4 separate regions of the Homo sapiens genome follow, and all the other regions are linked to region 3. The links come from fine-mapping of genetic effects on gene expression. A gene starts in region 3. Each other region holds a variant in brackets. All regions are shown on one strand. Distances are between the middles of the regions.

Evidence for each region.
Region 1: its variant is fine-mapped to the expression of LINC03129 in pancreas (GTEx, PIP 0.96).
Region 2: its variant is fine-mapped to the expression of LINC03129 in unexposed skin (GTEx, PIP 0.94).
Region 4: its variant is fine-mapped to the expression of LINC03129 in unexposed skin (GTEx, PIP above 0.99). The same link has a PIP of 0.9 or more in prostate and thyroid.

Annotation. Positions count from the first base shown.
Region 1 is chr7:65,690,802-65,698,956 of GRCh38, forward strand. All of the region lies in intron 3 of LINC03006 (long intergenic non-protein coding RNA 3006), which reads right to left. It also overlaps the pseudogene INTS4P2. Among named protein-coding and RNA genes, the nearest start is that of SNORA22, 61 kb to the right of the region's middle. The variant A/G (reference allele first, on the strand shown) is at 4,209.
Region 2 is chr7:65,771,379-65,779,533 of GRCh38, forward strand. It overlaps the pseudogene GTF2IP5. Among named protein-coding and RNA genes, the nearest start is that of LINC03006, 4.6 kb to the left of the region's middle. RefSeq lists enhancers at 4,012-4,513, 4,514-5,013. The variant G/T (reference allele first, on the strand shown) is at 4,243.
Region 3 is chr7:65,834,871-65,843,025 of GRCh38, forward strand. LINC03129 (long intergenic non-protein coding RNA 3129) reads left to right here and starts at 4,834. Exons shown (of 1, transcript XR_002956508.2): 1 at 4,834-7,532. It overlaps LOC124901659 (a long non-coding RNA gene), which reads left to right. Exons shown (of 4, transcript XR_007060364.1): 4 at 21-143. RefSeq lists an enhancer at 4,172-4,683.
Region 4 is chr7:65,046,084-65,054,238 of GRCh38, forward strand. It overlaps the pseudogene CCT6P3. Among named protein-coding and RNA genes, the nearest start is that of SNORA22C, 16 kb to the right of the region's middle. RefSeq lists a silencer at 755-955. The variant G/T (reference allele first, on the strand shown) is at 3,562.

The DNA.
Region 1 (8,155 bases), 140 kb before region 3:
GATTGGTCATTCAACAGGTTACCAGGGCTCTCTTTGGTTTCTCTGCAGTTCTCTTGGCTCTTTTTTTTTTTTTTTTTTTTTTGAGACAGAGTCTCTCTTTATCGCCAGGGTGGAGTGCATTGGCATAATATCGGCTCACTGAACCTCCGCCTCCCAGGTTCAAGCGATTCTCCTGCCTCAGCCTCCCGAGTAGCTGGGACTACAGGCCCGTGCCGCCATGCCCAGCTAATTTTTGTATTTTTAGCAGAGATGGGGTTTCACCATGTTGGCCAGGATGGTCTTGATCTCTTGACCTCCTGATCCAGCCATCTTGGCCTCACAAAGTGTTGGGATTATAGGCGTGAGGCACCGCACCCGGCCGGCTTTCTTCTCATGGTTGTAAGATGGCTGCCTCATAAGATAATATCTCAAGACAGAAAGGAAGGGTCATTCCCTTTCATGCATTGCTCTTTTGATTTGCAAAAACATCCCTGAGAAGCTCCCCAGCCAGCATACTCTCGTGCTCCATTGTCTAGAACTGGCTTACTTGCGTACCAGCAAACCAGTCACTGGAAAATGGGAATGGGGTTGCCATGATGGGTTTAGACCAATAGTGGTTCAGCTCTTGGGCTGGACCTGCCTTTTCCGAGCACTTTGCTGCCTGCCTGATACCTGAGTAAAATCAGGGCTCTCTCAGGAAGAAAGATGGGGGAAATGGCTGTTGGTTAAATAAACAGTTCTTTTATCTTTATAATAACCAGTTTTTTTAGATGAATTAACCAAGTTCCAGAATAACTGGGTGACTTATCTGAAGTCATAGAGTTAGCAAAAGTATATGGTTGAGAATTTCCAATTCCAGTTCAGGTTTTCTGATTCCAGTTCCTAGTACTTTTCAAAGGACTAACTTTACTAATTTGTTGATGTGCATTCTTATTTGTTTGTTTCAGGTGCTTGAAGTTTCTGGGAAGTCGGCATCCAACCCTGGTGCTTCCCTTGGTGCCAGAGCTTCTGAGCACCCACCCATTTTTTGACACAGCTGAACCAGACATGGATGATCCAGCTTGTATCCTCTGTGCTTAGGATGGGCCCTGATGTGTTGGCAGGCAGCTTTGGCATCTCCTTCTGCAGTGTAGCTAGGGTGGTCTGAGTTTTCTTTTCTTTGCTTTTCTTTCCTTTTTTTTTTTTTGAAGACAGAGTCTCATTCTGTCACCCAGGCTGGAGTGCAGTGGCTTGATCTCGGCTCACTGAAACCTCTGCCTCCCGGGTTCAAGCAATTCTCCTGCCTCAGCCTCCTGAGTAGCTGGGATTATAGGCGCCCGCTACCACACCCAGCTAATTTTTGTATTTTTAGTAGAGACGGGTTATCACCATGTTGGCCAGGCTGGTCTCAAATTCCTAACCTGTTGCTTGGGCTGGAGTGCAGTGGCACCACCCCAGCTCACTGCAACCTCCGCCTCCTGGATTCAAATGATTCTCCTGCCTCAGCCTCCCAAGTAGCTGGGATTACAGGTGCCTGCCACCACTCCCGGCTAATTTTTGTATTTTTAGTAGAGACGGGGTTTTACCTTGTTGCCCAGGCTGGTCTCAAACTCCTGACCTCAACTGATCCACCCGCCTCAGCCTCCCAAAGTGTTGGGATTACAGGCGTGAGCCACCATGCCTGGCCAGTATGTACTTTGATAGGCAATATAGTTGCTTACTTTATAGGCAAAATCATTTCCATTTTTTTGTATTCTTGGCAGTCTCTGGCATTTTTAAAAACCTTTGGTAATTGGGGGTGTGGGTGGAGTAGGGGAATGTATTTTGTTGTTTGTATTTGCATTTCTTTGATTATTAGAAAATCATAGTCTCTTGATGGAGATTTTGGAGGTGGAAAGTGAGAGTGCCAGAATCTGGCCAACCTTTTATACTTCCAAGTTTACTTAACCCAGTGATCTATCAGATATTGCAGTTTTGGTACTTATTTTCAATGCTGCTAAAACCTGTCCAACAATGCGAGCATTGTTCTCAGATCACACCGTCAGGCACTATGCCTACCTCCGAGACAGTCTTTCTCATCTTGTTCCTGCCTTGAGGGTATGTTGAAAACATCTGTTGTCCTTGTTTTTATTTTGCATGGGGTAGGGGTATTTGTGTTCATGTTTTCCTTTGAGATGGGGGTCTTGTTATGTTGCCCAGGGCGGTCTCAAACTCCTGGGCTTAAGCCATCCTCCTGGCTCAGCCTCCCAAGTCGCTGTGATTACAGGTGAGCACCATTGTGTGCAGCTTGTTTTTGGCTTTTTATTTTTTGTGCTTTGTGGTTATTAAATAGTAGAAAGCAGTCCATATATTCTCTGAAAACTTGTTTGTTCATTCTCCTTCTCTCTTGGGCTCTTTGCCATTGTTTTATACTTTTGCTTTTGTATCCTTTACCTTTTAAGATGATTCATTTTTTTTGGTGTCCCTGGGTTATTGATATTAGGCAAGAAGAAAGGAACCTGGAACAATAGATTATATTTTAGATCAAGAATTTAAATTGTTATATATTTATTTATTTATTTTTATTATTATTACCTTTTGAGACGAAGTCTCGCTGTGTCGCCCAGGCTGAAGTGCAGTGGCGCGATCTCGGCTCACTGCAAGCTCCGCCTCCCAGGTTCACTCCATTCTCCTGCCTCAGCCTCCCGAGTAGCTGGGACTGCAGGCACCTGCCACCACACCCGGCTAATTTTTTGTATTTTTTAGTAGAGACGGGGTTTCACCGTGTTAGCCAGGATGGTCTTGATCTCCTGACCTCGTGATCTGCCTGCCTCGGCCTCCCAAAGTGCTGGGATTACAGGCATGAGCCACCACACCCAGCCTAAATTGTTATATTTTAACTATTACATATAGCCATGATTCTCCAGAAGTGCTTATTTTTTAAAAATAAAACCTTTACTATTTTTAAAACCTAGAGATATAAAGAAGAAAATTTAAAAATGGATCGTAATAATAATAGCAAACACTTCGTGAATGCTGTGGCCCAGGTACTCTTCCAATCTCTCTATTTGCATTAACTCATCCCTGCTTGGGTGACTCCAAATCACTTTATTTGGAGTAATATACAAAATGAGGCCAGGTGCGGTGGCTCATGCCTGTAATCTAAGCATTTTGGGAGGCTGAGGCGGGTGGATCATCTGAGGACAGGAGTTCACGACCAGCCTGGCCAACGTGGTGAAACCTCATCTCTACTAAAAATACAAAAATTAACTGGGCATGGTGGTGGGCACCTGTAGTCCCAGCTACTCGGGAAGCTGTGGCAAGAGAATTGCTTGAACCCAGGAGGCAGAGGTTGCAATGAGCCAAGGTTGTGCCACTGCACTCCAGCCTGAGCGACAGAGTGAGACTCCATCTCAAAAAAAAAAACAAAAAACAAGTAGATACAAATTGAAAAGTGAAATACTCTTTGCTCTCTCCTCCCCATCCATCTTAAAAGGTAACCACTTTTAACAGTAAGAATATCTGAAGGGCTAGGCCAAAAATAAAAAAAAATTATTCTCATGAAAAAATTGTATGCTATATAAGTTTATTTGGGAATAAATCATTACTCTTCCTTCAAGTGAAAGATAAGATAGTGTTTTAAAGATAAATGTGGCCGGGTGCAGTGGCTCACGCCTGTAATCCCAGCAGTCTGGGTGGCTGAGGCAGGCGGATCACCTGTGGTCAGGAGTTCGAGACCAGCCTGACCAACATGGAGAAACCCTGTCTCTACTAAAAATACAAAATTAGCTGGGTCTGGGGGCGGCCACCTCTAATCCCAGCTACTCAGGAGGCTGAGGCAAGAGAATCGCTTGAACCTGGGAGGTGGAGTTTGCAGTGAGCCGAGATGGTACCATTGCACTCTAGGCAACAAGAGTGAAACTCTGTCTAAAAAAAAAAAAGATGTAGCAACAGTTTAATTTTTAGTCTCCTTCCTATGGTTGGCCCATTTATTTCAGTTAGCAATAGAAAATATTATACCTTTTCTGTTTTTCTCCTGGCAGCTGTGGCTGTATTGGGTAGACCATGTTTGCATTTTGTCTCTTTCTCTTTAACTCCCAATTGTTGCTGAGGAAGGGGAGAAATGTTATTTATAGAATCTCCTAGCCTTTTTTCCCCTTTGTTTTGTTTAGCTCACATTTTTAATGTGCTTTTATGTGTTTGTGTGTGTGTTACCAAAAGCTGAGCCACCAAACTTAATGACTCTATAATCCCACTGTGTTTGCTTAGTT[A/G]CCAGGTAGAAAACTGGTGTCATCAGCTGTTTCTCCCAGCATCATACCTCAAGAGGATCCTTCGCAGCAGTTCCTGCAGCAGAGCCTTGAAAGAGTGTATAGTCTTCAGCACTTGGACCCTCAGGGAGCCCAGGAGCTGCTGGAATTCACCATCAGGTAGGGTAATCATCCCTTCATCTGACAGAGTTAGTGCCGTTACACTCAGCTTGACTGTTCTGAATTCTGGTGTTGGTTACTAGGCTTGATATTCTGACTCTATTGGTCTACATTCACACACGGTTTTATGGTCTGTTTATATTTGGATTAGATTGTGGTTTGAACATATTTTTTAAAAGAGCTCTTTATATTCATGACTCGATTGATGATTAGTACACAACAAAATAGTTACAAAGAACCTGTTTTTAGTTTTTTAATTTTATATATTAGGATGAGTGACCAAAATGCAAAGTAACAGTGGCTAAAACAGGAGCAAAGTTTAAGTCTTCCTCATAGGCAGGACAGGGCTGAGATGACCATCAAGGATCTAGGCTTGCTCATTCTTTTTTTTTTTTTTTTGAGACAGGGTCTCACCCTGTCACCCAGGCTGGAGTGCAGTGGCATAATATCAGCTCACTGCAACTGCAGCCTCCTGGGCTCAAGTGATTCTCCCACTTCAGCCTCCCAAGTAGCTGGGACCACAGGCATATGCCACCACACCCGGCTAATTTTGGCTTTTTTTTTTTTTTTTTGGTAGAGTCGAGGTTTCACCATGGTGGCCAGGCCGGTCTCAAACTCCTGAGCTCAAGTGATCCTCCCGCCTCGGCCTCCCGAAGTGCTGGAATTACAGGCGTGAGCCACTGTGCCCGGCCTAGGCTCATTCTTTCTTGTGTCTTCATCTTCTGCATCAAGCAGCTCTGCTTAACAATTCAGAATCTAACTGTCCCCCCTGTATTCCATCCTGTGGGGAAAAGGAAACGGGAAGAGAAAGGTATCATCTCCACCCTGTGGTTTGTTTAAAGACACTTCCCAAAAGTTGTACACTCTAATTTTACTTGCATTCCATTGACTAGAACTTAAGTCACATGGCCATCTCTCACTTCAAGGAGCGAGGACATGCAGTCTTTATTCTGGGTGACTAATGCCTGGTTTACATGCGATGACTCTAATACTCAGGAAGAATGGGAGAAAGATATTGGGGAACAACCAAAAGGCTCTGCCAGACCTTCCTCAAAATGGCCTGAATGATATGAAAAGAATTTAAACTCATTTGCTTTTAGCAAAAGCAGTATTGTTTGCTCTTAAAAGATTAAAAAATTATGTCTTTTAAGAGCAAACAGTACTGCTTTTGCTAAAAGCAAATGAGTTTAAATTCTTTATTGTTTGCTCTTAAAAGAGAAAAATATTATATCGTCCAGGTGCAGTGGCTCATGCCTGTAATCCCAGCACTTTGGGAGACCGAGGCGGGAGGATCACTTGAGGCTAGGAGTTCAAGACCAGCCCCGCTGAGTGAAACCCCGTCTCTACTAAAAATAGTAGCCTGTAATCCCAGCTACTTGGGAGATTGAGGCACAAGAGTCGCTTGAACTCGGGAGGCGGAGCTTGCAGTGAGCCAAGATCATGCCACTGCACTCCAGTCTGGGCAACAGAGTGAGACTCCATCTCAAAACAAAAAAGAAAGAAAGAAAAATATTATATTATATCATTTGTATCTTGGTTGAGATCTCTTTTGATCTGCCCGGAAGAGTATTTGGCACCAGCCACATTCAACTAATAATTTTTAGTGGATGATTTCATTCCATACACTAAGAAACAAGCTCTGTGCTAGATACAGATCAGCTAGCTAGGATTCTGCCCTTAGAGAGCCCATGTAGACAAGATGGATATAGACAAAGACTTATGATGGTGGATAACAGCGCTTTGTACTTTGTTCATGCTTTCCTGTCCATTATTGCATCTTAACATGTTATAAAGCCGGCCAACTGAACCATCCTCCAAGTTATGTTTTCCCATTATATTAGGTCATTCATTCACTTAGCAGCATTAACTATTTGTTTATTCTAATAAGCCAGTTGCTGAGGGTAGAGAGAAATAAGAAATGACATTTGTTCTTAAGGTACTCACTGTTTATTACAGGACGCAGAAATCATCAATTTGATAAATGATACAGTGAAGAGAAGCATAGATGCTGTGGAAAAACAGATGAAAGGCCCCGACCCATCACAGTAGTAGTGGTGAGGGATGCTTCACAAAGGAGAAGATCCTTTAGCTAGTATGAAATGATAACTGAGCATGTCAGTTTCGTAGTCCATGTGCAGAAGAGAATTCCAACTTCAGCAGACATTAGAAGAGCTGGGAGACCTGAGGGAGAACAGCCTCCCAGAACTGCAGTGGTGTAGTATAGAGATTGAGTGAATGGAGCTTTGAAGGCAGACTCATTTTGGTTAACGTCTGAGCTAATACAGTCATGCACTGAATAACAACGTTGTGGTGGTCCCATGATTATATTTTTACTGTACCTTTTTTATGTTTAGATATACAGATATTTACCATTGTTTACCATATTTACCAATATTTACCATTGTAACCAGTGTTACAGTTGCCTACAGTCTTTAGTACAGTAACATGCTATACAGATTTGTAGCCTAGGAGCAACAGACTATCCCATATAGCCTAGGTGTGTAGTAGGCTATACCATTTGGATTTGTGTAAATATACTCTATGTGATGTTTGTGAGACAAAATCACATAACAGTGTATGTCTCAGAATGTATCTCCATCGTTAAACAACGCATGACTTGTAGTTGTTTGATCTTAGTCAACTATATTGCTCAGGGTTCATTTGCAGAAAACAAAAGAGGCTTTTAACTAATTTAAGCAGAAAGAAATTTATTACAGAATGTTACATGGCTCACAGAGTTGTTGGGAAAGCTAAAGAAACAGACTAGGTGGAATATCCAGGAATGATTTCCAGAGCCACACAATGAGTGGGCCACCAAGGAGGCTGATGTTCCTGCTATTATCAGGAAAGCTGCCTATTGAGTCAGGATGCTACCAATAAAGCTGCTGGCTCCAGAACCGTGTCTTGCATTCTGCCTTTCTTCCGACTTAACATTGTTCCCTATACAAAACTCATGCGAATGTGTTTGATTGACTGATAATAAATCACGTCTGGAACCTAGCTCAAGGGAATCTGAGAAATGCAGTTTTTAACTTTGCAGCTTATGTAGTCCAGGAAGATACAGTAGATGAAGATAGGAATACCACGTGTGAGTGAGCCAAATCCAGTATATGCCGTAAGTACCAACTGCTGTTAGCTCCAGTTTACTCACCTGGGGGACTTGGTGACTTGCTGGGTGCAGGGGTGGGAGTGAGGAACTGAGAGATAAATGGGTGGTCTGATACTCTAGTAATCCACTAAAAAGTTGAGGGTGTCCTGGGCTCCCCTGGGAGTGCCGTGGGCTTGGGCTGGACAGGTCGTGGGGAGAATGCTGGGTAGGTGGGTGCAGCTGCAGCCACAGGGGAGCCAGAGTGTGCAGCATGTGTCCAGCGTGAGCCTCCCGAGCTTCCACCTGGGTCACATAGTCTTTGTGCCCCTGGGAAGCCTCTAGAAGCCACACAGAGGCCCATAGCAACTCTCATGCCCTGGAGGGTCTCACCAGCCACTCCAGTGATGGGCCCTCCAGTAGCTCTGGGACCCAAGCAGGGATGATTCACAAAGTCCCTACCGAGCACAGGCCTTCACAGTTCAACAAGAAAATCCTACTGTTGACTGGATTTTTAAAAATCAGTGGAGGAGATCACACTAGAAATGATAGATATTGCAAGAAACAAAGCTTGAGGGAAAGCTTGTTACCGTAATGAATGGACTCACACATATCACTGCTTTGCAGTGATAGCATCAGCCAAAAGGGCTGCGAACATGAATCATTAACAAGTTGAAATATGTCAAAGATGGCTGTGTGGTGTGAA
Region 2 (8,155 bases), 63 kb before region 3:
TGCGCCTGGACAACATGACGCAACCCCGTCTCTACGAAAGATACAAAGATTAGCCAGGCGCGGTGCACGCTTGGCCTAATTTTTGTATCTTCCGTAGAGATGGGGGGGGTCTTGCTATGTTGCCCGGGCCGGTCTCGAACTCCTGGGTTCAAGCGATCTTCTCACCTTGGCCTTTAGAGTTGTTGGGATTACAGGCGTGAGCCACCGTACCCTCCTGGGCTAGGCTATTTAATAACATAAGAAAGTGCGGTGGCTCACGCCTGTAATCCCAACACTTTGGGAGGCCGAGGCGGGTGGATCACCTGAGGTCAGGAGTTTGAGACCATCCTTGCCAATATGGTGAAACCCAGTCTCTACAAAAAAATACAAAAATTAGGCTGGGCGCGGTGGCTCACACCTGTAATCTCAGCACTTTGGGAAGCTGAGGCGGGCCGATCACCTGAGGTTGGGAGTTCAAGACCAGCCTGACCAACATGGAGAAACCCCATCTCTACTAAAAATACAAAATTAGCCGGGCGTGGTGGTGCATGCCTGTAGTCCCAGCTACTCAGGAGGCTAAGACAGGAGAGTCTCTTGAACCCAGGAGGCGGAGGTTGCAGTGAGCCGAGAAGCATCACTGCACCCCAGTCTGGGCGACAGAGCAAGACTCCAGAGCTTGAGACCAGCCTGGGCCATGTAGTGAAACCCTGTTTATAAAAAACAAACAAAAAAAGCCAGGTGTACCTGTGTCCACCTGTGGCCCCACTACTTAAGAGTCTGAGGCAGGAGGATAACTTGAGGCCAGGAGCTGAAGGCTGCAGTGAGCTATGGTCATCCCACTGCTCTCCATCCTGAGCAATAGAATGAAACCTTGTCTCTAGATAGCTAGCTAGCTAGGTAATTGATACGTAGTTTTCTATCGGAAATCTTTTTCCTAGACTTGAACATGTTTTTCTAAAGTAGCATTCAACACATCAGCATTTTACAGTGTTATTAGTTGTTAATATGATTATGTTTTTCTGAAATACAGTATTCTTTACCAAAACAGTGTTGTCTTTCAAAGCACATACATAGGTCCTCCAGTGAATTTGTCTGATGTTGGCGACCTTCGCTTTCTGGTGACTGAGTCAACAGTATCTGTTTCATAAATAATGTAGCCCTATTTTTTTTGAGACAGGGTCTTGCTCTGTTACCTGGGCTGGAGTGCAGTGGCATGATCTCTGCTCACCATAACTACCGCCTCCTGGGTTCAAGCGATTCTCCTGCCTCAGCTTCCTGAATAACTGGGATTACAGGCGCCACCATATCTGGCTAATATCTTTTTGTTTTTGTTTTTGAGACGGAGTTCGCTCTTGTTGCCCAGGCTAGAGTGCAATGTCGCCATCTCGGCTTACTGCAACCTCCACCTCCCGGGTTCAAGCGATTCTCCTGCCTCAGCCTCCCTAGTAGCTGGGATTACAGGCATGTGCCACCACGCCTGGCTAACTTTGTATTTTTAGTAGAGACAGGGTTTCTCCATGTTGGTCAGGCTGGTCTTGAACTCCCTACCTCAGGTGATCCGGCCACCTCAGCTTCCCAAAGTGACAGGTGTGAGCCACCGCGCCCAGCCTAATTTTTGTATTTTTAGTAGAGATGGGGTTTCACCATGTTGGCCAGGATGGTCTTGAATTCCTGACCTCAAGTGATCTGCCTGCCTTGGCCTCCTAAAGTGTTGGAATTACAGGCATAAGCCAACATGCCCGGCCAACCCTATTTCTTTAAGCATATACATTTTGCACTTGTTAAAAGTATTTGAACATAAAATTATCCAGCTTCCCTTGTTTATGTATGTTTGAATTTTGTATAAGCTTAAATATTTTTTCCAATCTAAGCTTTATTATATTCCCTTTCTTCTATATTTGTATAACTTTAGGTGGCTGTCTTTGTTGAAAGTTTTTTCTGAAAAGCCTTAAAACAATATAGTTATTGGCAGCAATTTCAGAGTTATTTGAGGGCAAGGGGAGATTTATAATGATGATTCAAATGAAGCAAACTAAAAAGTAATGAAGCAAGACAGAGGATAAAGCAGTATTCACTTGAGCACATCCCAAAAGAATAAAATTTCAAATGTAACTAGAAAAATGTATGCTGAAGATCATAGTACAGGAATAATTATTAATATTCAAAATAGCTTTAAAGCCGCTCACCTTTTGAATGTTGGGAATTTACCAGGAGGTGGCTGTAACCTAGAATTGTTCCTTCAGTAATGACCATTTTCTTTTTCAACATGATGATGATTCTCCACCTTCTAAGAGACCAAAGACCAACAAACTACCACAGCCACCAGTTCCGGAACCTGCCAATGATGGGCAACGGAAAGTGAGGGAGTTCAACTCTGGTAAGTTCTCAGTGAAATCCACAACCTTTTCCCTCATCTTCTGGACTCTCAATGTGGCTGATGAAAGTTACAACATGCTCATCTGCAGGGGGAAATGCTTTAGCATGTATTACTATGTTATAATCTCACCTTTGTAAAGCCAGGAGCTTTTTGAAAGTCCCATTATAGACATTGTTTAAACATGGTTTGAATTTACCAAAGCATAGGACATTGTTTCATCTCATATTAATTAGTTGGCTCAAAATTAGTCCTAATGACTTAGGAATTCAATGGTTTCTCTTAGCTTTAAAACCTTCTTTATTTCAGAACTATTTCACCTGTTGGTTTTCGTTTTTGCTGTGTGTCACTGCCTGCCAGCTGCTATTGTGTTAACTCCCAGTGGATCATGTGTCCTGTGAAGGGACTGAATGAGATATTAATGGCAAATTATGTTGATGATTCATATTTTGAATATAAATAGATCATTAAGCTTGTATACATTTTGAAAATAGTATGTTAATATTCTGTTGTGTCATAGTCACAATGATTGGCTACATATTGAATTTATATGTACATTAAGTTGTTGTATGCTTATGTTCTTTAACATTCTAACTTGCAACTGTATATCTGTTAAGTCTTTTTTTTTTTTTTTCCGAGAAGATCAGACTCTGATTTATTGAGGCATCTGTTTGATGCCAAGTTAAGTGGCCCAGGCTCTGTGTAGGGGGTGAGGTTAACGCAGGAAGAAAGATGGTGAGGGGCAAGGGTGCAAGGATTATGTTGGAATGAGGCTCCCCAAGTTTCCCTGGCCCTGGCTGGTTGTGCTGCTGGCCTGAACATCTGATGAGCTTGCAAGGGTGACTCCGAGAGGTGGGTGGTCCAGGGGCTAGGGCAGGGACTTTGGAGTCACGCTGTTGGCTTTGAATCCAGACTCCTACACTTGGTAGCTGTGACCTTTCCATGCCTCAGTGACCTGCAGAACTGAGCTCTGTCTGAGCCAGGTCCCATCCAGGCACTGCAGATCCATCCAGAGTTAAACCACCCCAGGTTGCTGACTATCTGCTGCCTTCTCAAGCAGATCCTTGTCTCCTTGGAGGCCTTCACAATCCAGTGGAGGAGGCAAAACTCATCTGCCTCTGTCCCTCTGGGTGCACCTCATGCCAGGTGCATCTGTGGGCACAGGTCATGCTCCTGGGCTTCCAAAGTTGGAGAAAGTTGCCAGGCTCAGGTGGCTATATCAGAGCAGCTGCTACCCTCTGGACACAGTGACAAAAGAACACTCTGGGCCTAGAGTCCTGGTCTGGGGCACTGGGCAAGGCTCTTGCACTTCTCTGAGCCCGTTTCCCCATCTGGAAAGTGTGCTGATTGAGTCTCCCTTTGGGCACTGAGGGCTCAGGGTTAGTTTGAGAGCCAGCATCTGGGGTTTGGGCTGTAATTCCCCTTCAGCCCCATAGCTGGGGGGAGTCAGGGACTTTGTCGGGATTACCCTAGGCATCAGTCCAGCTTCCTGCTCCTGGCTTGGGCTCAGCATCTGAAGTAGTTTGGGGGGCAGGTGGTCCTGGTGGGGGTTGGGGCTTTTCCCCAGAATTAGGTCACACCCAGAGCCAGAAATCTTGGCACCTGCTCTAGGCTAAGGATGCATCTGGCCCCCAGGGTGCAGGTAACTGCCCACCTTTCCTGGTTTCTGCCTGCCAGGGCCAATCTTCAGACCTCGGGACTTCCCAGCCTATCCCACCTCCCTCTCTGGCCAGCCTTGAACCCTCGTGGGTCCAGCACTTTTTCCAGGCCATCTCCTGGTTGTCCTCCTGCCCCGAGGCCTGGCTCATGCTGCTCCCCCTCCCACTCACCATGACCCACAAGGACCACTCCACACCCAGCTCAGCCCCAACCCCTTGGATAGTCCTTTC[G/T]CTTTCCTCAGGCAACCAGGTGCATATCTTGGTGTCAGGACCTTCCCTGCACCTGGGAATGCCTACTGGTCACGTCGGTCACAGAGACCAAGGCATTTACTTGATTTGAGTGCCTTTGGTTCATTGTCTGCATGGCCAGGGAGGGAGTCAATGATAGGCTTTTCACTTGCTGCAAGGGTCAGTTCTCCTGGCCCCATGGCCCTAGGGATGGAGGATGCTGCAGGATACACACCCCTCACTTCCCAGCTGAGTGCTGTGGGTCATCTCAGGGCGATTTCACAGTCCCGCATGCCCCACCCCCTCAGCTCTGCAAATACCAAGCAGCGCAGCCTGCCTAGGGGACAGTGGGCTCAGGACTGCCCAGGTGGGCTCAAGACTGCCCAGGTAGTCCCCAGAGTGCCCTTGGCAGGCCCCTCACCTAGCTGCTCCCACAGCTCTGTAGCAAGAGTCTAACCTTTTTTGAGTGTGGAGCCTGCTGAGAATGAGAACTGTGGGCTGTTTTCCCGGAAACGCATGTGCACACTCTCCACACAAAACCTTGCATCGTTTCAGGGGGCTCACACCTCCCTAAGGGCCCAGTTATTGAACCCCTCGGACCTGAGAATGAGAAACCTTGCCTCAATAGAGTCTTGCTCTGTTGCCCAGGCTGGAGTGCAGTGGCCCAACCTCAGCTCACTGCAACCTCCGCCTGCTGGGTTCACGCAATTCTCCTGCCTCAGCCTCCTGAGTAGCTGGGACTACAGATGCGCACCTACCACTCTCAGCTAATTTTTTGTATTTTTAGTAGAGATAGGGTTTCACCATGTTGGCCAGGATGGTCTAGATCCCTTGACTTCGTGACCCGCCCGCCTCGGCCTCCCAAAGTCCCAGGCATGAGCCACCACGCTGAGTCAGGGTCCCTCTTAAACTTGTATTTTTAAGGTCTGGTGTCCCTCTTACTTAATCTTTTTTTTTTTTCTTTTTTGAGACGGAGTCTTGCTCTGTCACCCAGGCTGGCAGTGGCATGGCCTCGGCTCACTGCAACGTCCGCCTCCTGGGTTCAAGTGATTCTCCTGCCTCAACCTCCTGAGTAGCTGGGACTACAGGCACCTGCCACCATGTCTGGCTAAGTTTTATATTTTTGGCATAGACGGGGGCGGAGGCAGGGGGTTGGGGAGGGGAGGGGGGATTTTGCTTTGTTGCCCGGAGCTCGAAGTGATAATCTGCCCACCTCTGCTCTCAAAGTGCTAGGATTACAGGCCTGCACCACTGCACCCAGCTGCTGTAAAGCCTTATTTCCACACAGCTGAGACATGTTTTAGGAAGTTTGCGAAAAGGCCTCTGGAGACCTCCTCATTGTGGCCTCCCTGTTGTCGTGTTTAATTTGATTGATCTTTTCTGCCCTCCTTTTCAGAAATTAAAGGCTAAAAAAAGGCATTAAACTTTAAAACTTCTCTTGTAGTCTCCTATTAAACTAATTCTAAGAACCACCAAAAAAGGGAAAAATGTTTTCGAAAGCAGTAAAATGATATGGACTGTTAGTATGTAAAATATAGGAAATAAGTCATTATATATTATTGCTGCTCTGACATAGGGACATATTATTGAGAATCAACTTTTGCTCAGTTTTCAGAGAAGTGGAATAATCATATCGCTGATCTATGTAAACAAGTTGAAGAATTGTCTGACAGAAAATATGGTATGTTTAAATTGGAAAAGTCCTGTAATACTTTGTTCATAAGCATTTACACAATGGAGTTATTGTTCATCATGGGAGTACTGTGGACAAGCCCAGGGCTGCTGGTGAATCCTGCCATCCTTACACGTCTCTCCTTGTAAGGTGCTTTGTAGTTTCTGTCTAAATATTAGAAACATTCTTTGTTTCTAGATTACTGCAAAACTAAGGAAAAGTTTTATTTCTTTAGCATTTCTTTTAAACTTTCAGCATGGATATTGGGGATTTATTTACATGTTTATTGCAAAGCCCTGGATCTTAGAGATTTAATTGAATATTATTTTTTGAAACTAATTGTTTCTCTTAATCTGCTTTGTTAAATTCGGTATTCACCAAGATGCCTCTATTGTCTCTACTTTTATCCTTTTTTTTTTTTTTTTTGAGTTAGAGTCTCACACTGTTGCCCAGACTGCGGTGTATTGGTGCAATCTCAGCTCACTAAAACCTCCACCTCCTAGGTTCAAGCGATTCTCCTGCCTCAGCCTCCCGAATAGTTGGGATTACAGGCGATTCTGTTGCCTCATCCTCCCAAGTAGCTGGGATTACAGGGGTGTGTCACCAGGCCCAGCTAATTTTTATATTTTTGTAGAGACAGGGTTTCACCATGTTGGCCAGGCTGGTCTCGAACTCCTGACCTCAAATGATCCATTCTCCTCGGCCTCCCAAAGTGCTGGGATTACAGGTGTGAGCCACCACACCCGGCCTATGTTTTTATTATATTGTTAATTTAGTACTATTCTGAGTAAAAATAATTTGCTATTACAGTTTTATAAATTGACTATGACAATTTTATAAATGTCAGTGCTTTTTATAAAATGAAACAGATTATGTTGTGGGGCTTTTGTTGTGATGGTGATTTACTATTTAAAGACATTAATATTCAGTTGTTGTGAAACTATAAAAACAATCTTCACATTTTATATATATATATATATTTTTTTTGAGACAGTTTCGCTTTTGTTGTTCTGGCTGGAGTGCAATGGCGCAATCTCGGCTCACCGCAACCTCCGCCTCCTAGGTTCAAGCGATTCTCCTGCCTCAACCTCCAGAGTAGCTAGGACTACAGGTGTGCACCACCACGCGCAGGTAATTTTTGTACTTTTAGTAGAGACAGGGTTTCACCATGTTGGCCAGGATGGTCTTGATCTCTTGACCTCGTCATCTACCTGCCCTGGTCTCCCAAAGTGCTGGGATTACAGGCGCGAGCCACCACACCTGGCCCACATTTTGTAATTTTAAAGCAGTATTAATGGTAATTGCCTTAGAGAAAGATACTTTTGTTGTGATATATAAGTATGATATTCAAGTATAGTGTACAGCAAAGGACATTAAACCTAAGTCAGCACTAATGTGTTATAGGATACACTTGAAACTTTAGTACAAATAGTAATGTTTAGCAAATAGACCTTAACACATAATGATAGCAAAAAAATGGAGCTGTTCAGATGAGAGACCATTGGTTATGTCTGATTTTAATACTCCCTATGCTCTTGACTTTTTCTTTTTTTCCTTTGAGACAGAGTCTTGCTTTGTCACCCAGGCTGGAGTGCAGCAGCGTGATCATGGCTCACTGCAACCTCCACCTCTCAGGTTCAAGCGATCCTGCCGCCTCAGCCTCCCTAGTAGCTGGGACTACAGGTGAGAGCCACCATGCCCAGCTAATTTTTGTATTTTTAGTAGAGACGGGGTTTTGCCATGTTGGCCAGGCTGGTCTCAAACTCCTGACCTCAGGTGCTCCACCCGCCTTGGCCCCCCAGAGTGTTGGGGTTACAGGCATGAGTCACTGCACCTGGCCATCACTTGACTTTTTATAGTTGTTGTAGTATTTTAATCATGAGTAAATAAATGCTAGTTGAAATGATGCAGTTCAGGAGCATCTTCTGCTTCTCTTACTAAAAAAAAGTATTTTTTTAAGTCCAATAGTTACACTAATGTTTATGTGTGGAAAATATTACCTTTTCCAGCCGGGTGCGGTAGCTCACACCTGAAATCCCAGCACTTTGGGAGGCTGAGGTGGGTGGATCACCTGAGGTCAGGAGTTCAAGACTAGCCTGACCAATATGGTGAAACCCAATCTCTACTAAAAATAAAAAAAACTAGTCGGGCATGGTGGTGGGCGCCTGTAGTCCCAGCTACTCGGGAGGCTGAAACAGGAGAATTGCTTGAACCCAGGAGGCAGAGGTTGCAGTGAGCCAAGAT
Region 3 (8,155 bases):
TTCTTTCTTTTTTGTTTTAGTAGATGGGATCTCACCCTGTCACCCAGGCTGGAGTACAGTGGTGCAATCACAGCTCACTGCAGCCTTGAACTCCTGGGCTAAGGATCCTCCTGCCTCAGCTTCCTGAGTAGCTGGGACCGTAGGTATACATGATGACATCTGGCTAATTTTTAAATTATTTTGTAGACATGGGGTCTCACTTTGTTGGCCAGGCTGGTGTCAAACTCCTGGCCTCAAGTGACCCTTCTACCCCTGCCTTCCATCCTAGAGGTATGAGCCACCACAAGGAGCACTTGTTCAATTTTCTAAAAAAATAAAAAAATTCTAAAGTAAGGCTATGAGATGATGGCAGGAAGATAAAAGTAGAAAAACAGAAGAATAAGTTCAAATGACTTATTCACACATATTCTTTTGATAGCAATAATAACTTAGTAGATAGATTTCTTTCAAACAGAAAGCAAATAAACAATGTACAGGAACTTCAACACACACTATACAATATTTCCACGTTGCTGACATCAGTTGTGTAAATTCTTCGTGGTTTACTTGACTGTCGCTATCGGTAGTTGGCTTCTCTGATCATTTTTATCAACTTCCTCATCTGTTAACTTCTCTCCAAGGTATGTCATATCATGACATACTGCTGCTGCACGAACATGGCCAGTGTCATTTTATTAAACTCGTAGAATGCTTCACTAATTTCTTTTTTTACCCTCTGTCTCTGTGTTTTGCATTTTTCTTACCTTTATTGTCAGAAACTCCAGAAAGTCAATCATACTAATTCATCACCATTTGCTTCATTAATTTATACTTTGCTTATATGGAATTTTGCCCAACAGACCTCACTACAATTTCTAACCCATTTTTTGTTTTTTTGTTTTGTTTTTTTCTGACACAGGGTCTTGCTCTGTTGTCCAGGCTGGAGTGTAGTGGTGCCATCACAGCTGACTGCAGCCTCAACCTCCCAGGTTCAAGTGATCCTCCCACCTCAGCCTCCTAAGTGGCTGAGACTATAGGTGCTTGGTACTGTGCCCAACTAATATTTGGACTTTTCCTATATGTGGGTTCCAGAGGGCTGACTGTGAAATGTGAGTATGCATGGATTTTGGTATATGCAGAGATGGGGGGCTGGAACTAATCCTCTCTGTATACCGAGGGATGACTGTATATGTTTTTACAATTATGCTGTATGACACATATTGTTCCATAGCCTTGAAAATGATAATTTTTAATGAAAATTATTTTTAATTGAGAGGAATAATAATAAAAGTAGCAGCTGGCCAGGTGTGGTGGCTCACACCAGTAATCACAACACTTTCGGAGGCTGAGGTAGGAGGATGGCTTGAGGCCAAGAGTTTGAGACAGGCCTCGGAAACCAAAGGAGACACCATCCCTACAGAAAAGTACATGAATTATCCTAGTGTGGTGACATGTTCCTGTAGTCCCAGCTACTTGGGAGGCTGCTGTGGGAAGATCACTTGAGTCCAAGGAGGTTGAGACTGCAGTGAGTCGTGATCAGGCCTCTGCACTCCAGCCTGGGTGACAGAGTGAGACCCTGTCTCAAAGCAACAAAAAAGTAGCAGCTAACATTAACTGACCTTTTACCAGGTGCCTATAAATACCATAGTATAATTTCTTATAACTGTTTCTTACTTAACTTAACCACTCTGTTTTCAATTACTCCCAGAATTTCACTGTGTTTATGCAGATGACCTTTTGTTTAGATTGAATTGTCTCCCCAAGGTATTTCCAGAAGTAAGATTACTGTGAGTCATGGTGAATGGGCATTCTCATTGCCCTTGATGTACATTGACAAGGTTTTGGGTGCCTCCTGGCTATAATCCCAGCCCTTTGGAGGCTAAGACAGGAGGATTGCTTGAGGCCAAGAGTTGGAGGAGGCAGTAAGGTGAGACCCTGTCTCTATTATTTTAAAAAATTGCCAACCTTTACCTTGGAAGACTATGTACAATTTAAACACCCCTCCTAGTATAAGAAAGTGTCCATTTCACTGCACCTTTGCCTGCACAGGGTATTATAATTTAATAAGTTATTTTTTGTTTGATTATTTTAAATAGATAAAATACCGCATATTACTTGGTCACATTTCAGCATCTTCCCTTAGCTTATTAGCTCTATTTCTTTTCTGTCTGTAAATGGTTGTTGTTGTTGTCGTTTTGTTGTTTTGTTTGAGACGGGGTCTTGCTGTGTCACCCAGGCTTGACTGTAGTGGCATAATCATGACTCACTGTAGCCTTGACCTCCCAGGCTCAAACTATTCTCTTACTTCAGCTTCCTGAGTAGCTGGGACTACAAGTGTGCACCACCACTCCCAGCTAATTTTTTTCTTTTTTTGGATAGAGACAGGGTCTCACTGTGTTGTCCAGGCCAATCTCTAGCTCCCGGCCTCAATCAGTCCTCCTGTGTTGGCTTCTTAAATTGCTGGAATTTCAGGCATGAGCCACCATGCCTGGCCTGGGCTAGTCCTATATTCTCTGGAGTTCTCTTTACTTTGTGCTAGCCAGTCTCTCATTATGCTGTTCCCCTGTTACAATGAATAATTCTCTGTATTAAATTTACCACTTTAAACTTTTGAGTGGTTTATGTCTCCTGGTTGGACTCTAATATGCTAAGAAGGGTCCCTGGAGATAGACTCACACAGATGGGATTTGGGGATAGGTTTGGTTATCCAAGGGGCAGTGCTGAGCTCCTTGCCAATGGGAAACGGAATGCTGGTGATTTCCAGGAAGTGACCTCACAATGACTCAAGCTACTGCTTACTGTTGATTGTGATGAAATGCCAGCTGAGGCACATGCCTTGGGAGCTAAGTGGTTGCTGCACTTGACCGCTATGAAGACTGGTGTGGGAATGGTCCTTTTGGATGCACTTCAGCAGGGGTCCCCAACCCCTGAGCCATGGAGCTGTAAGGAGCCACACAGCAGGAGGTGAGTGGTGTTGAGTGAGGGAAGCTGCATCTGTATTTACAGCCACTCCCCATTGCTCACATTCCCGCCTGAGCTCCGCCTTCTCTCAGATCAGCAGCAGCATTAGATTCTCATAGGAGCATGCATCCTATGCAAACCGTGCATGCGAGAGATCTGGGTTGTGCTGTCCCTATGAGAATCTAATACCTGATTATCTGTCACTTTCTTCCATCAATTCAGATGGGACCATCTTGTTGCAGGAAAATAAGCTTAACATGTCCACTGATTCTACATTATGGTGAGTTCTATAATTATTTCATTATATACTACAATGTAATAATGGAAATAAAGTGCCTAATAAATGTAATGCGCTTGAATCTTTTGGCTCAGCTCCTGCCTCCCGGCAGCCTCTCCAGGTCCAGAACTTTCTCCAGTCGGCCTCTACGGGCCAAGCTTGTGGCTCACAATGGCCTATTTAGGCCCATACCCTACCTCATGGCAGTCTCCACAGATGAGGCTGCTGCCTCATGGCAGCCCCCACAGGCCCAGCTCCATCATTACAATGGCCTCTTTAGGCCCAACTCCTGCCTCCCAGCCTTCTCTCCAGGCCCAGAGAGAAGGTTCTCAAGTCAACCTCACCAGGCCCAGCTACTGCCTCTCATCAGCCTCCCAAGGGCCATCTTTTGCCTCACAGCCACCTTCCAAGACTCAGCTCCTGTTTTACAGTGGACTCTTGAGGCCCACCTTTTGCCTCCCAGTGGCCTGTACAGGCCCAGCTCCTGCCATACAACAGTCTCTTTAGTCCGAGCTCCTGCCTCTGGGCAGCCTATACAGGCCCAAAATGTCCATAAGTCAGCCTCTCAAGGCCAAGCTCCTGCCTTCTTCCGTTGGCCTCTCCAGACCCAGCTGCTGCCTCCAGGTGGCCTCTAAAGGCTGAGGTTTCTCCTGGCTGTGCCTGGAGGCCCAGCTCCTGCCTCACAACAACCTCTTTTGGTTCAGCTCCTGCCCAGCTCCTGGTGGCCTTTGTAGGCCCAAAACTGCCTCAAGTCAAGCTCTCCAGACCCACCTTCTGCCTCCCAATGGCCTGGACAGGCCCAGCTCCTGTGTGACAACAGCATCTCCAGGCCCAGCTCTTGCCTCCCAGCTGACTCTCCAGGCCCAGCTTTTGCCTCACGGAGGTCTTCCCTGAACAAGTTTCTACCTGCCTCCCGGCAGCCTCGACAGGCCCAGGTCCTGCCTCACACTAACCTCATTACGCCCAGCTCATGCCTCACGGCAGCCTCTCCAGGCCCAGCTCCTGCCTCCGACGGGCTGTCCAGGCCCAAAACTTCCTCAAGTCGCCTCTTCAGGCACAGCTCCTGCCTAACACTGGCCTCTTTAGGCACAGCTCATGCCTCTCAGTGGCCTCTCCAGGCCCAGCTCCCGCATCCCGGTGGCTTCTCCAGACTGAGAACTTTCTCAAGTCTGCCATTTCAGCCCAAACTCCTGCCTCCCATTGGCCTCTACAGGCCCAACCTCTGCCTCACAGCAGACTTTCCAGGCCCAGTATCTGCCTCACCACAGCCTCCCAGGCAAAGCTCCTGCCTTTCGGCAGCCTCTACAGGCCTAGCTCCTGCCTCCCAGTGGCCTCTCTAGGCCAAGCTCCTGCCTCATGGTGGCCATTCCGGCCCAGCTTTTGCCTTTTTGCAACCTCTTTAGTCACAGAACTTCCACAAGTGAGCCTCTCCAGGCCCAGTTCTTCCTCCTAGCTGAATCTCCAGGCCCACCTCCTGCCTCACAACAATCTCTTTTGGCTCAGCTCCTGCCCAGCTCCTGGAGGCCTTTGTAGGCCCAAAACTTCCTCACGTCAAGCTCACCAGCACAATCTTCTGCCTCTTGGTAGCCTGGATAGGCCCAGCTCCTGCATGACAATGGCCTTTCCAGGCCCAGCTCTTGCTTCACGGAGGTCATCCCTGGCCAAGTTCCTGCCTACCTCCCAGCAGCCTTGACAGGCCCAGCTCCTGCCTCACACTGGCATCATTAGGCCCAGTTCATGCCTCACGGTGGCCTCTCCAGGCCCAGTTCCTGCCCCTGACAGACTCTCTAGGCCAAAATCTTCCTCAAGTCGGCCTCTCCAGGCCGATCTCTTGTCACACTGGTCTCTTTAGGCCCAGCTCATGCCTCTTGGCAGCCTCTTCAGGCCCAGCTTTTGTGTCCTGGCAGCCTCTCCAGGCCCAGCTCCTGCCTTCTGTCAGCCTCTACGGGCCCAATATCTGCCTCACAGCAGATTCTCCAGGCCCAGCATCTGCCTCACCGTGGCCCCCCACAAGCCAAGCGCCTGCCTTTCAGCAGCCTCTACACACCCAGCTCCTGCCACCCAATGGCTCTTTAGGCCAAGCTCATACCTCACGATGATTTTTCCAGGCCCAACTTTTGTCTCATGGCAACCTTCCCTGGCCAAGTTTCCACCTATTTCCTGGCAGCCTGGACAGGCCCAGGTCCTGCCACACACTGGCCTCTCTACGCCCAGCTCATGCCTCACAGTGGCCTCTCCAGGCCCAGCTCCTGTCCCGGGACATCATCTCCAGGCCCAAAACTTCCTCAAGTCGGCCTCTCCAGGCCCAGTTGCTGCCTCCCGGCATTCTCTCCAGGCCTAGCTCTTCCTCCTGGCTGTATCTACAAGACCAACTCCTGCCTCACAACAACCTTTTATGGCTCAGCTCCTGCCCAACTACTGCCGGCCTTTGTAGGCCCAAAACTTCCTCAAGTCAAGCTCTTTAGGCCCACCTTCTGCCTTGCAGTGGCCTGTACAGACCCAGCTCTGGCTTGAGAACAGCCTCTGCAGGCCCTGCTCTTGCCTCTTAGCTCCCTCTCCAGGCCCATCTCTTGCCTCACAGTGGCTTCCGTGGGCCAAGTTCCCGCCTGCCTCCCAGCAGCCTCAACAGGCCTAGCTCCTCCCTCACAATGGCTTGTTTAGGTCCAGTTGATGCCTCTGGCAACCTGTCCAGGCCCAGCTCCTGCCTCACACTGGCCTCTCTAGGCCGAGGTCCTTTCTCATACTGGCCTGTTTAGGCCCAGCTCATTCCTCTTGTCATCTCTCCAGGCCCAGCTTTTGCCTGTTGTTGGCCTCTACCTCACAGTGCACCTTCCAGTCCCACCTCTTGCCTCACCATGGCCTCCTCTGACCAGGTTCCTGCCTTTCGGCAGCCTCTACAGGCCTAGCTGCTGCCTCCCAATGGCCTTTGTAGGCCACGCTCATGCCTCACTGTGGCCTTTCCAGGCCTAGCTTTCGCTTTTTGGCCACTCCAGGCCCAGAACTTCCCCCAGTCAGCCTCTCCAGGCCCAGCTCTTCCTCCCAGCAACCTCTGCAGGCCCAAATCATCCTCAAATTGGCCTCTTCTTTCCCAGCTCCTGCCTCCTGGTGGCCTCTGAAGACCCAAATCGTCCTCCAGTTGGTTTTTCCAGGCCCAGCTCCTGCCTTTTGGTGGCCTCTCCAGGTGCAAAACTTCCTCCCATCAGCCTGTCCAGGCCCAGCTCATGCCTCTTGGTGGCCTTCTCAGGCCCTGCTTTTGACTTGGTGGCCTCTTCAGGCCCAGAACTTGAACTCAAGTCAGCCTCTCCAGGCCCAGCTCCTGCCTTCTTAAGGTCTGTACAGGCCCAGCCTCTACCTCACAGCGGACTCTCCACACCCAGCTCTTGCCTCACTGTAGCCTCCCCAGTCCAAAACTCCTGCCTTTTGGCAGCTTCGACAAGCCCAGCTCCTGCCTTTCAATGACCTCTTTAGGCCCCGCTCATTCCTTACAACGGCCTTTCCAGGCCCAGTTTTTCCCTTTTGGCGGCCTCTCCAGGCCCAGAACTTCCTCAAGTCGGCCTCTTTAGGCCCAGTTGCTGCCTCCTGGCATCCTCTGCAGGCCGAGCTCTTCCTCCCTGCTGTGTCTACAGGCCCAACTCCTGCCTCACAACAACCTCCTTGGACTCAGCTTCTGCCCAGCTCCTGGTGGCCTTTGTAGGCTCAAAATTTTCTCAAATCAAGCTCTCCAGGCCTACTGTCAGCCTCGTGGCAGCCTAAACAGGCCCAGCTCCTGCCTGACAATGGCCTCTCCAGGCTTTTCTCCTGCCTCGCAGCAGGCTTTCCAGGCCCAGCTCTTGCCTCATGGTGGCCTTCCCCGGCCATGTTCCTATCTGACTTCTGGCAGCCTCAACCGGCCCAGCTTCTGCCTCACACTGGCCTCTCTAGGCCCAGCTCCTTTTTCACAGTGGCCTCACTAGGCCCATCTCCTACCTCAGATCTGCCTCCCAAGACCCAGCTCCTGTCTCATGGTGGTCTCTCTTACACCAGCTCCTGCCTCACAATGGCCTCGTCTGGCCCATCTTCTGCCTCACAGTGGCCACTCAAGGCCCATCTTTTGCCTCATGGTAGCCTCTTCTGGTTTTGCTCTTGCCTCACAGTTGCCTCTTCCAGATCCAGCTTTAAGCCTTTGATGGTCAACAGCATCAAGGAGCCTAAAGCTTCCCTGGACTCTCATTTGTTCACTTTACAGCAGAGTGCCTTAGCAAAAACTGTCTCTTAACCTTGAGAGTGGATTTCTGACAAATCGATAGTAAATTCTGCCTGTGTGGTTTCACAGTGATTTCTGTTTTATTTAGTGTCTCATGGTTTTTCTTGTCTACTGGGGGTGAGGAGGGGAATGGGCTTTTGCTTGGGCCCTTTGTCTTTGCCCTGGACATGGTAGCTTCTCACTTCATGTCTTCTTTTTATATTTTTTATAGTTTTCTTTTTCTTTTATAGTTTTCTTAGACAGGGTCTTGCTCTGTCACCCAGGCTGGAGTGTAGTCATGTGATTATGGCTTACTGCAGACTTGGCCTCTTGGCCTCAAGTGATCCTCCCAACTCAGCATCTTGAGTAGCTGAGACTACAGGCATATGCCACCATGCCTGGCTAATTTCTGATTTTTTCTGAGAGGTTGGTTCTCACTAGGTTGCCCAGGCTGGTCCCAAACTTTTAGACACAAGCAATCTTTTTGCCTGGGCCTCCCAAAGTGCTGAGATTACAAACATGAGCCACCATGCCTGGCTTGCCATTTGCTTGTCATGAACTATTAAGAATTTACTTTTTGATTAATACACTATGACTATATACATTTCTATGTAGAGAGAGATTTTAAATTTTTCTTGGATACCAATTTTTTTCTTTTCTTTTCTTTTTTTTTTTTTTTTTTTGAGGCAAGGTACTGCTTTGTCACTTAGGATGGA
Region 4 (8,155 bases), 790 kb before region 3:
ACAGTTGCGCACCCCACCATGCCTAGCTAATTTTTTCTATTTTTCATAGTGACCAGGTCTCACTTTGTTGCCTGAGTTGGTCTCAAACTCCTGGCCTCAAGCAGTCTTCCCACTTGGCCTCCCAAAGTGCTGAGATTACAGGTGTGAGCCACCACGCCCAGCCTTTTACCACTACTTTAAATTCCATTTAGATCTAATATTGATAGAGTGATAACCATATCAACCAGATTTTTAAAATATGCAAACGATGGTGCCAGTTTCTGTATCTGTGACAAAAATATATAGAGTTTGTATTATAGCTTTTACCTGTTTAGAGCACTCTTTGGAAAGGCAGGGAAATTACTGTGAAGGTATTGGTATTCCAGAAGTAAGTTCCTGGAGTGTTTTGCCTTCTAAGGTGTGAGGACGTGGTTTGTCACACCCAGTTAGCTATCAGATAGTGTAGTGAGCTATCCGGAAGACTTAGCAGGTTAGCCTAGGGAGGAAGGAGAAAGGGGTTCTGGGCACATGGAGGGAGGGGGAGGGAAAAGAGTTTGTTTTTGTCCTAGATTGGGGTAGCTTTTTCTGAGGGAGGCCTTGTCCTGTGGACCTGCTGCATATAAAGACAGGAGAATTGGACCTGAGGTGTGGTGCTAGCTAAAGCGCCACACAGATCTGGGAATTTAAGAGGAGTTCATTTCCTCAATCATTAGGAAGAACTTGAAGGGGTAGCAAACTGTGGTCATTTGAGAAGAATAGCAAGTGGTCATATTTGAATGTAACATACTCAACTGGGTTGGGAAAGAACCAGAATCTAGATCTTGCCCATAACAAGTGCAAAACCAGGCGTTCTTGTAAACCATGTACTCTTGTAAACACTGATAAGACATAGCACTGAGTCTTGGGCTTTTCTTCTATAAAGTTGTTGTACTGGTTGAGGATCCCTAATCCAAAAATCCAAAATCTGAAATGCCCCTGTGAGCATTTCCGTTGAGTGTCATATTGGCACTCAAAGTTTTGGATTTTGAACCATTTCAGATTTTGGACTTTCAGATTTGGGATGCTCAACCCGGTATATAATGCACATATTCCCAAATCTGAAAAAATCCCAAATCCAAAGTATTTCAGCTCCAAAGCTGTTTCAGATAAGGAATACTCAACCTGTACTACATTGTACTAGGCTTGTATTAGATTCCCAGTTTTCAAAATTTGTATCTCAGAATCCCTGTTCTCTGTCAATGAAACAGGGATTTCATACACCTTTGATTCACATTTTAATGTTTTAACTTTAAAATATTATAAATGTTTAAACACAGTCAAATGCATCTCATGCTAAATTTTAATATATTAGAGACAACTGATTTGTACTGCCAGGTTATCTCAAGAGAGTTATACTGAGTGAAAACAAGTGAGAACCCTAGAAGGTTATATACTGTATGATTGCATTTATGTAACATTATTGAAATAACAAACCTGCAGAGATGGAGAACAGATTTAGTGGTTGCTAGGAGTTAGGAATGGGAGGTGAGGGGTGGTGTGGTTATAAAGTGGTAGCATGAGGGAGCTGTGTAGGGATGGAACAGTTCTGTGTCTCAGGTGTGATTATACAAAGCTGCAAACGTGATAAAAACTTCATACAACCACACACACACATACTGCATATAAATCCTAGCGTACTCAAGTCCCATTTGCATACAAAACTGGTGAAACCTGAATAAACTCAGGATTGGAGGAATTTGGGCGAGGGTACTTGGGACCTCCCTGTGTACTTTTTTGTAAATTCCTGTGATTTATAGTTATAGTAATTTTAAAATAAAAAGTTGGCCAGGCACGGTGGCTCATGCCTGTAATCCCAGCACTTTGGGAGGCTGAGGCGGATGTATCACGTGAGGTCAGGAGTTCAAGACCAGCCTGGCCAACATGGTGAAACCCCATCTCTACTAAAAATACAAAAATTAGCCGGGCATGGTAGTGGGTGCTTGTAGTCTGAGCTACCTGGGAGGCTGAGGCAGGAGAATCACTTGAACCTGGGAGGCAGAGGTTGCAGTGAGCTGAGATCATGCCACTGCACTCCAGCCTGAGCGACAGAGCAAACTCTGTCTCAAGAAAATAAAATAAAATAGACTGGGTGCAGTGGCTCACGCCTGTAACCCCAGCACTTTGGGAGGCTGAGGTGGGTGGATCACCTGAGGTCAGGAGTTGGAGACCAGCCTGACCAACATGGTGAAACCCCATCTCTACTAAAAATACAAAATTAGCCGGGCATGGTGGTGCATGCCTGTAATCTCAGCTACTCGGGAGGCTGAGGCAGGAGAGTTGCTTGAACCCAGGAGGCGGAGGTTGCAGTGAGCCAAGATCACGCCATTGCACTCCAGCCTGGGCAACAAGAGTGAAACTCCATCTCAAAAATAAAATAAAATAAAATAAAAAGTAAAAAAGCACACACAAAAAAGTGCATTTAGAATATTTGAGAGAAAATAAGCAAAAGGAAGAAAATGTAAATTATCTATAATGCTTACACCCAGGACAACAATCCTTGGAATAGAGTGTCTCACTTTGTATATAGAAATGAAACTTTTAAAATGCCATTTTATTTTTTAATTAAAATTTTTTCTTTCCTTTTTTTTCCTCAGAGTTAGAAAGGATAAAAATGTTATTGATTAGTAAGACTGTATCTTTATGTTGATATTTTGAAATTTTAGGCTAGTGCTTGTTTGTTCATATAACATTATATAAGCACATTCAGTACTATTAGAACTGTTGCATTATGCAATAACATGACTGCCTAATGCATATATCAGGATTAGTACATATTGTAAAGTTTTTATTTTTTACCAAAATGTTTACGACTACCAAGTATTCATTCCTTAACACTATTACATAATTAATTTAGAAATGTTTTACTTTTAAAACTTCTGGATAGGTGTAATTAAATTCTTAGATAGCGTTAATGTACTATTTAAAAAACACACACAAAACATTATCATTTGTAAAACATGCTTTATCATCTATTCATCTTTGTGAATCCGGTTTTTCTTGATACCATGCCATCAAAACAAATTTGACATAAGACTGCCCAATCATCCATAATTTAAAGTTGGTGTTTGTCAGAAGAATTTTATTGTTCTCATTATACATGTTATACATTTGAGCTTTTTTTTTTTTTTTTTTTTTTTTTTGGAGATGCAGTCTCACTCTGTCACCCAGGCTGGAATGCATGCAGTGGTGCCATCTCGGCTCAATGCAACCTCCACCTCCCAGCTTCAAGTGATTTTCCTGCTTCAGCCTCCTGAGTAGCTGGAACTACAGGCACGTGCCACCATGCCTGGCTTTTTTTTGTGTGTATGTTTTTACTAGAGATGGGGTTTCACCATGTTGGTCAGGCTCGTCTCGAACTCCTGACCTCAAATGATCCACCCCCCGCCTTGGCCTCCCAAAGTGCTGGAATTACCGGCATGAGCCACCACACCCGGCCACGTTTGAGCTTTGAAATACATTGATAGAATAAAATACTGCTTTATTCTTTTTTTGTTTGTTTTTTGAGATGGAGTTTCACTCTTTAACCCAGGCTGGAGTGCAGTG[G/T]CAGGATCTCAGCTCACTGCAACCTCTGCCTTCCAGCTTCAAGTGATTCTCCTGCCTCAGGCTCCCGAGTAGCTGGGATTACAGGCACCTGCCACCAAACCCTGCTAATTTTTGTATTTTTAGTAGAGATGGGGTTTCACCATGTTGGCCAGGCTGGTGTCGACCTCCTGACCTCGTAATCTGCCCTCCTCAGCCTCCCAAAGTGCTGGGATTACAGGTGCAAGCCACCACACCCAGCCTAATCTGTTTCTTATGTTATAGATGCACATAAAATTTCATTTAGAAAAATGTTCTTGTACTACAATATTTAAAGCTATTGAATTATGATTCATAAGTTTTATTTTGTAGTTAGCATCTCTAGGGGAATTTCAGGGACACTGTTGGCTGTCTTGTGATTACCGATCCTTTTAAAAACTCGTTGTATTTGAGAAGTAAAATAGTAGAATATATATGACAAAATCGGGAATTAAAGTAGACAGTATACTCAATTCCACTGTGTTTAAAGAGTTTGATTAATTTCTATACATTGTGCCAGTGGTTAAGATCTGGGACTCTAGAGTCAACCTGAGTTGAAATCTTGGCTCTGTCACTTGATCTCTTGTCTCAGCTTCTTCCTCCATAAAATGAGGGTAGTAATAGCGTTAACTCATAGGATTATTGTGAATATGAAGTGTACCAGTACATGTAAATAGTCCTGGTGTCTGGCATAAAGGTACTCATAAAACATAGTTACTATTATTTTAGAACATGGTTTAGATCTTCCTGTATGTTTAATTTGTCTTTTCCTCACTTAACATATCACGGCAGGGCACGGTGGCCATAATCCCAGCACTTTGGGAGGCTGAGGCAGGTGGATCATCTGAGGTCAGGAGTTTGAGACCAGCCTGGCCAACGTGGTGAAACCCCATCTCTACAGCCTGGCCAACGTGGTGAAACCCCATCTCTACTAAAAATACAAAAATTAGCTGGGCATGGTAATGCACACTGATGGTCCCAGCTACTTGGGAGGCTGAGGCAGGAGAATTGCTTGAACTGGGGAGGCAGAAGTTGCAGTGAGCCGAGATCATGCCATTGTACTTCAGCCTGGGCGACAGAGTGAGACTGTCTCAAAAAAAAAGAAAATATTACCACTATTTTCCCATGTTGTTAAAAATTCCACCAGTAATGGAAGAGAATATTGGGTGCCCTGTGCCCTTGCCAAATTGGGCATTCTCATTTTTTAGATATTTGCCAATATGATTTATGAAAATTGTCATGTTATTGTTTTGATTTGCATTTTCCCCAAGCATCAGCAAGATTTAATGGTTTCACATTTAAAAAATTTATTTTTTAATTTATAATCACCTTGTTTGATAATGAGGTTTTCATGTTTTTATTAACTGTGTTTCTTCTCCTGCCTGGATAAATTTTAGAATTTTTCACATCGATTTAGACGAATGCTAGTACAAAGGTTTTTTTAAGTCTATGATAATTTTAATGATTTTTCTTGGTAATTTTTGTCTGTAGATTCAAGTTCAGACAGGCACTTCCCATTCTGATATTGTGTAAATATATGTAATTTGTTAGTTCTGAAAAACATGACTTCTTTAACCTCCTAGAATGTAGTTTACTGGGTGTTACATGAATCTACAACATAATTTTTGTACAGACAAAAATTTTGCATTTCTTCTGGATATTGCCTGTTCATACCTTTGCCCATTTTTTCCCTTTCTGGGTTGTTTATCTTTTCTTCTTATTGCTTTATAGGAGTTCTTTAGATGTCACAATGGTTAATCTTTTGTTATATGTGTTACACATTTTCTCTTCATTTGTTATTTGTCTTTTAATTTTGTGTTATGGTGTCTTTACATAGAAGTGTTAACTTAGGTGGTCAGATCTTTCACTTAAAAAAATTCTTCATTATTCAACTGGAAAATCTTTCACATATTTATAGTTTTTTTTTTTTTCTGGTTTAGCAAAATCTCTACCATCCCAAGATTATCTTTAAAATATTTTCATATACTTTATATGAAAAAATTTTTTTCACACTGAGCTCTTTTAGTTTGTATGGAATTTCCTTTTGTATCTAGTGTAAGGGTAGGGATCTAAATTTTTCCTAAATGGATAGGCTTTTGCCTCTCTCAGTTCATTGACTTGTTCATATTTCAAATGCCACAAGGCTTTTCTGCATACATAAGGCCTCTTTCTGGATTCTCAGTTCTGTTCCAGTGACAGGTCGGTCTGTGTTTATTCCATTACCACCCCTCCCCCGTGGCTTTTTATAGAAGTTTGATATCTGATAGGGCAAATATGCTCATTTCCAAATTTTTCTTTGCTATTGTCATGAATTTACTGTTTCCGGTGAATTTTAGAATAATTTTGATGAGTTCTAAGACAAATCCCACTGAGATTTTGATTAGAATTGTGCTAAATTTATAGACGAATATGGGAAGGAGTCAGTTCTCACTAGCAGGTCTTTCCATCAAGGAGCATATTGTATCTGTTTATTCTGGAATTGCCTCTCTGATAACGGTTTTAACTTAGATGCTCATTGTGGCATTGTTTTGTTCTAAACACATGTATTACAAAGATAGTGTTAGAGTAAATTAGTTGAGGGAAAAGCCTTATATCATCTATCCCTGTTTTCATTTCTCTTTTCACCTTTACTTTTGGTCTAAAGAGTCTTTATCATGATATATGGTATATGTATACTCAGGTTCTTGTAATAATCGGCAGTATATTATGATCTCTTTTTCTTATAGTCATTAATTTAATGATTAAGGACCATTTAATCAAGTTGATACCTGTACTTAACTCTTATTGTTAGATATGAAGGATGTTTCCAGTTTCTGAAGGTACACATTGAGATAGTGCCTTTACTTTTGTTTTATTTGAAAAATGTTTCAGGAGGGGTTGTTTTATTTTTTCAAAAAACCTCTTTGAGGTAATACGCAATTGTTGTGAAAATGTCATACAATATTGCAGCATATAAAGAAGAAGGTGCCTTTTGAGAAGGTGAGAGCTTTTTGTTTTTTTATTTTTTTATTTTTTTGAGATGGAGTCTCACTCTGTCGCCCAGGCTGGAGTGCAGTGGTGCGATCTCGGCTCACTGCCACCTCCGCCTCCCGGGTTCACGCCGTTCTCCTGCCTCAGCATCCCGAGTAGCTGGGACTACAGGCGTCCGCCACCACGCCTGGCTAATTTTTTATATTTTTAGTAGAGACAGGGTTTCACCATGTTAGCCAGGATGGTCTCAATCTCCTGACCTTGTGATCCACCCACCTTGGCCTCCCAGAGTGCTGGGATTACAGGCGTGAGCCACTGTTTTTGTTTTTTTTTTTCTGAGACAGAGTCTTACTCTGTCACCCAAGCTGAAGTGCAGTGGCGCAATCTTGGCTCACTGAAACCTCTGCCTCCCGGGTTCAAGCTATTCTCCTGCCTCAGCCTCCCAAGTAGCTGGGATTACAGGTGCATGCCACCACCCCTGGCTAATTTTACATATTTTTAGTAGAGACGGGGGTTTCACCGTGTTAGCCAGGATGGTCTCGATCTCCTGACCCCATGATCTGCCCGCCTTAGCCTCCCAAAGTGCTGGGATTACACGCATGAGCCACCATGCCTGGCCGGGAAGGTAAGAGTTTTGTTCTCTAAACTTTCAGTCATTGGAGTACCTCCTTGTTACTTTTGCCATATGCTTGTATCATCTGTACTGTTAATTCATAACACTTTTCTTAAAATTTACTAAAGAAACCCAGAAATCCTTAGTGATAAGAGCTGTGAACTCTTGATCTATATTAGATAAATACATAACTTTGATATTATGTACATTGCTGTATATTAAAGAAATATAACATTGATCCATATTAAATAAATGAGTTTTTCAAAAGTATGTATACTTTATGACACACTGGCACAGTGAGTGGAAGTGTAGGTTCTGAAATCAAGGTTTCGTGGTTTTAGATCCTAATTGTGCTATGTCCTCCCTCAGTGATACTAGATAATAAACTTAAGCCTCCACTTCCATTTTATTTGTTAAATGAGGTTAGTATGCCACCTGCCTTGTAAGGTTATTGTAAAATTAAACAGCAAGTGTACAAGCAGTCAGCACAGCCCTAGTACATAGGTGTTGCACAAATGCTATCATTCAATAGAATAATTTGTAAATACCTTGCGCCTCCTTCAAAGTTAGTTCTCACACAAGCATCTCATTTTTAAAGTGTTTACATAGTATATATTGTAAGAATGTATTGTGATTTATGAAACATAGCCTTTTTAAATTTTGTTTCTTTCTGTCATTTAAAAATAAAAGCAACAAATAACAGGATAGCTTCCTACTATGTATCACCATATTTCCCTCCCAAAGGACTGTACTAATTTGCTGTTCTGTCAGTTTAGACTTTATCACTTAAATATTTGGTGAGGGGTGATAGTGGGTTTAAAAATAAAAGTTGTTTTTGTTTTAGTTAACATTTTATTATTATTCACCAGCCATTAAGGAACACATTAATTACTATTTATTCTTTCTTGTTGAATCTGTGCAATTTTCTGAGAAGTAGGTAAACCCGCCCCTGTGTGTGTATGTGTCTGTGTGTGTGAGATGCAATTTGTGTGGTGC